Regions from separate parts of the Homo sapiens genome. Here region 2 is linked to region 1. Evidence: fine-mapped expression QTL. Tissue or cell type: whole blood. Region 1 holds a variant in brackets; the other region holds the start of a gene. All regions are shown on one strand. Distances are between the middles of the regions.

Region 1 (2,753 bases):
TGGGAGGCTGAGGCACAAGAATTGCTTGAATCCGAGAGGTGGAGGTTGCAGTGAGCAGAGATCAAGCCACTGTACCCCAGCCTGGGCAACAGAGCAAGACTCTGTCTCGAAAAAAAAAAAGAAAAGAAAACCTGGAGCAGGCATGGGGTATACGTCATGGGTCACTACTCTTGGATACAATTGACGAAAACCACAATCAACTGGCTTAAGCCGTTTTATAACCCAGCATTAGGCCAGCCTGGATCCAGGGGTCAGATACTGAGATCAAGCTTTGATCTGCTCAGGATTCCCCCCTCCCCAAGGCTCCTGCTTCCAGATGACCCCAGTGTGCATTTCGTCCGCCAGCGTGGGTCACATGTCCATCCCTGACCAGGGTGCTACAGTGCTCTGGTTGGCCAAGCTTTGGCCATGGGGTTTACCTCACCCTACTTTTACGCAAGAGTATGTGGTGGCCTAACACAGGTGGGGGACCCTGCTTCAATACCAGCCTTTATCCACAGATGACCCCACGCCTTCTGCTCCAGAGCATCAGGGTTATAACACATGGGACACACGGGGCACACATACACTCCCACGCAACATCCACACACCCCACAAAACTACCTGAGCCCACATAGTCAGGGCAGGGACAGGCACAGAACAAAGTGGGTGCACAGGGACTCGCAGGGAGGTCGAAGAGCTGAGTCTCGTCGGGAGGCTGAGGGGGAAGAGCGGGCACTGGGCTGCGAGTGTGCAGAGCTGGAGGTGGGGGACTGCGGTAAGTACCCGTCCTGGGGTGCGGGCCCTGCTGGGAAGCATTGGGAGCAAGAAGGGTTAGATCCTCAAAGGAGGATAATTCTTCCAGAAGGTTTTCTTTGTTTTGTTTTGTTTTGTTGAGGCACCAAGATTGGAGTGCAGTGGCGCCATGTCAGCTCACTGCAACCTCCGCCTCCGAGGCTCAAGCAATTCTCTTGCCTCAGCCTCCCGACTAGCTGGGACTACAGGCACCTGCCGCCACGCCCAACTAATTTTTTTAATTTTTAGTACAGATGGGGTTTCACTCTGTTGGCCAGGCTGGTCTCGAACTCCTGACCTCGTGATCCGCCCACCTCGGCCTCCCAGTGCTGGGACTACAGGTGTGAGCCACCGCGCCTGGCCTCTTCCAGAAGGTTTTCGATGGCAGCAGGTGGAGGGGAGCGAGAGGGCCATCGCTCCTGCTGCAAGGGCAGCCCCTCCACGGGATCCCACACTCCTGACCCGTTCAGTATAGACGGGGTACTCCCGGTGCGGCCTGTCACCGCTCTGTCTGGCGCTGGCGCTCCTAGAGAAGGCCATGCCGACCTCTCCCCCACCTCGCTCCAGATTCCCCTTCTTGAGCTGCTTTTCCCACAGTCCCCCCAGGCGCCACTGAGAGCCTCCCGTCTTCGATGGGCTTGGGGCGCCTGGACCCTTCCGGGGTCACTTTGCCGTCTTCCTCCAGCCCCCCTCCCTACTCCTTGTCGCCGCCCCC[C/T]CGTCTTTTCAGGACCTTGCGCACTCAGGCTGGCCCTATGCTTTGGGGTACCCCAGCAGTGCCCCCGGGTCTCCGGCCACCCGGTGACGGAGGGAGGGAGAGGCTGGCGAGGGGGCGGCGCCTTAGGTCCCAGCGCGACCCGCCTCTCAGCCCCTCCCGCCGGCTACAGCCGCGCGGGACGGGGCAGGGACCTCGAGAACACCGGGGACTTGCGGGCCGGTGGCCCCGGGCAGGCCACTTCTGACGCGGGTGCGAGGCCTTCCGCGGGCGTGCACGGTTGGGCCGGAGCCGCGCCGGGGGCCGGGACACGCCTGGGGTCAGCGCTGGCGTCGCCGCTCGGGTGGGGTGGGCCGGGTTCGGGTCCAGTCTCCTCCCCACGGGCGGCCCGCGCCCCGTCTTCCAGTGACCCCCACATCCCTTGCGCCCCGAGCTGGAACTTCGGCAGGTTCTGCCCCGGGCCGCGCGCGCTTTCTGGGGACCAGGGCTGTGGTTCCTGCTCCGCGTCGTGCCTTTAGACACCGCCGGGCGTTCGTCCTCCATCCCTCCCCCCTTTTCCCCACTCCGCGGTTGACGAGGGCCGCCCCCAAGTGGCCATGTCCCCCGGCATGGACGACCCCTCAGTGCCCCTGAGGGCCCAGGGTCTCGCCCCCGTCCCGAGGCAGGCCATGTTTGAATTTATTTGGAGAAATTCGCCCAGCCCAGGGGACCTCTTTCTGCAGCTCTGGCCTTCCAGTAGGAGAGGGTCCCTGGGGCTCTCAGGCCTGACAACTTGGCATCACTGAATTCTCTAACCATGTCTGTCCATGACTTGAACTCCTTTTCTTTTAGAAAGATCTTTGCAAACCCCTTGTGGGCGTGCCCCTCCCATGGCCCCCGTGCCTCTTGCCTGGGCTTTGGGCTTGTCTGAAAGGGCTAAAAGGGGGTGATGCCTGGCCGGGCGGGTGGCTCACGCCTGCAGTCCCAGCACTTTGGGAGGCCGAGGTGGGCGGATCACCTGAAGTCAGGAGTTCAAGACCATCCTGGCCAACATAGTGAAACCCATCTCTACTAAAAATACAAAAATTAGCAAGGCTTGGTGGCAGGCACCTGTAGTCCCAGCTACTTGGGAGGCTGAGGCAGGAGCAGGAGAATTGCTTGAACCTGGGAGGCAGAGGTTGCAGTGAGCTGAGATCGTGCCACTGCACTTCAGCCTGGGTGACAGAGAGAGACTGTCTCAAAAAAAAAAAAAAAAAAAAAAAAAAAAGTGATGTCCAGTGCCTGGGGA
Region 2 (2,627 bases), 120 kb before region 1:
TATTTGGATCATGTAGCATCCAGAATTTTATTCTGCTTTGAATAGCTGCTTCCCCAGGTAGACAGGAAACCAAAATTCTCCTACACAAATTTTGGGGCTGAAGTTGGGGCGCCGTGGCTCACGCCTGTAATCCCAGCACTGTGGGAGGCAGAGGCAGGTCGATCACCTGAGGTCAGCCTGGCCAACATGGTGAAACCTGTCTCTACTAAAATACAAAAATTAGCCGGGCGTGGTGGCGGGCGCCTGTAATCCCAGCTACTCGGGAGGCTGAGGGAGAATCGCTTGAACCCGGGAGGCGGAGGTTGTAGTGAGCTAAGATCGCACCACTAGACTCCAGCCTGAGCGACAGAGCAAGACTTCGTCTCAAAAAAATAAAAATAAAAAAAATTTGGGGGTTGAGGGTTGGATGATACTAACTCATGCAAACACCAAACCCTGCCTTTCTTCCCCTTCCCGGTGGCAAGAGGGCTTTTCAGATCAGTGATACATTCGCTGATTCTAGTGTTTTCCACCCTAGTAGTCAAGCCTTTGGGTGTCCAAACAAATAGAGAACAAGAGATCAGGATCTCTAAAGGTCTAGAAAAACCCTGGGCCACTTCCATTTTGTGAGGTTCTCAGCATACTGAAAACTGAAGATGTACTAAGAGTGGGTTACTAAAATGGTGGCGTATCTTAAATCTTTCCATGGCACCATCCTTTCTCTCGTCCTGTCATCCCTGTATCTCTCTGCCCTGACACCTAATCTCACTTCAGGAAACATAAATTGAAAGTTCAAATAACCTCGGATTATATTATTCTGGACTGTGTGTTATGCTGGGCGACGAGGCTGCGCAGGCTCCTGGGCCGAGCCATGACTCTGCAGGAACTGCGGCGCCGGCTCACACAGCGCGGAGCAGTGCACGCCAATCCGGCCAGGCGCTCGCGCTGGGTTCTGCTCACGCCCGTAGGGGCCCGCGTTCGCTGCAACGGGCCCTTCCTGATGGCCGATCGTCGGACTCCTACCCCTTTTGCCGGCTGCCGTTTGCCCCGTCAGCGAAGGGCGCGCGATGCGTCCCAAGTCTCGGCTCCAGGAACCAGACGGGTGAGGGCTACTGGGGGTTGGGTTGGAACGCCCCGAAGGCACCACAGCAACCGACGCGGGAACGCCTGTTAAACCAGCCCCGCCCCGAGACGCGCGCGCCCGGCGGTCTCGATCCAGCGTGGCCCGCCCCTCACCTCCCGCCCAACCAACAGCCACTTCCTGCCTCACTCCCGGCCAATCTTCACACTCCACGAAGAATAGCCGTAGGGGGCGTATGGGACGGTGCGTAGAGCGATGCCCACGCCGGCCAACCGGATGTCGGGGCTTGCGCGGGAGGGCGGGACTTGGCGCCGGCTGTGGCTACTCAGGGGCCAGGGGCGGGCACAGGGCCGGGCTTCGTGCGGTGGGGCTCGCTCGCGCGGCAGCGGTGGCCGAGGCCTCTTGGTTCTGCGGCACGTGACGGTCGGGCCGCCTCCGCCTCTCTCTTTACTGCGGCGCGGGGCAAGGTGTGCGGGCGGGAAGGGGCACGGGCACCCCCGCGGTCCCCGGGAGGCTAGAGGTGAGAGGGGAGACCTGAGCGCGTCCTCGGGCCTGTGAGGACCTCGGGGGGCTGGGAGCGCCTCTGCGGCTGAGGGGTCGGGCGTGGCCGGCGACTGAGGGGTCGGGCTGGCTCTTGAGGGCCCAGGCCCTGGCCGACGCGCCCGCCGTGAGCGAGGAGGCCCGAATCCGGGCGTCTTTGGTTGGGTTGCGGGCCCAGGCCGCGCCGCCGGGGTCGGGAGGCGTGGCAGGTGGCCCGACAGCCTTCTTTGACCTCTGGGAAAGCTGACTTATTCCTATGGCTTTGCTTCTAGGGCTTTCTTAGGCCTCTTTGCCGGCTGCCTGGGCAGCCGCGAGGTGGGCTGGAGTAACTGGGTAAAAGTATAGGGTGGAATCGGGCCTACTAGGTACCCCTAGTAGTAGGGAAGGGTGGTATTAGACCGAGAGGGAATGTTTACAACTAGCGTTACAGTTTAATATTTGAAAATCCAAAGCGGAGACTGGACCCTAGTTCCCTGAAGAGAAAGGGGAATGTACCAGAAGGAGAACACGCAGTGGTTGAGAAACTTAGCAGTTACAGCACCTATTCTGGAGGCGAGTAATCCAGTTGGAGAGGGACAGGGCGTTAAAAGCAGGAAAGCCCCCGAAAGCTCATCTAAGTGCATCTCTTTCCACACCGGAGGCCTGGAGGTATGAAATGACTGGCCCAAGGTCATGCGATTAGTGTACTGATGGTGCTGGGATTATAGTTCAGGGATAGACCGTGCAGTGGTTAACGCTAAGGCCCTGGCTCGAGTCTTTGATTGGTCATTGGTTGCTCTGTGAACTTCGGCAGTTTTCTTACCCTTTGTGCCCCCGTTCTTGTCAAGTAATGGATATAATAATACCCGATGGATTTGTGAGGATTAAATTAAGATATGTATACAATAAGACAGGGAAGTCCGACATTTAGTAACTGCTCGATGATCATTGCGGTACGTTATTATAATCTGAATGCCTTTGGACCAATACACTGCCATCCTAGTGAACTGGTTCAGTCCTGTTTCGCAGGACCTGAGGTCACAGTTAT

Evidence for each region. PIP is the estimated chance that this variant, and not a neighbour inherited with it, causes the effect.
Region 2: it holds the start of CANX, and the variant in region 1 is fine-mapped to the expression of CANX in whole blood (TOPMed, PIP above 0.99).

Annotation. Positions count from the first base shown.
Region 1 is chr5:179,815,309-179,818,061 of GRCh38, forward strand. It overlaps a transcript of SQSTM1 not described here. Among named protein-coding and RNA genes, the nearest start is that of SQSTM1, 4.2 kb to the right of the region's middle. RefSeq lists silencers at 1,374-1,823, 1,934-2,003. The variant C/T (reference allele first, on the strand shown) is at 1,490.
Region 2 is chr5:179,697,523-179,700,149 of GRCh38, forward strand. CANX (calnexin) reads left to right here and starts at 1,445. Exons shown (of 15, transcript NM_001746.4): 1 at 1,445-1,580. RefSeq lists an enhancer at 550-1,079 and silencers at 1,090-1,499, 1,540-1,829.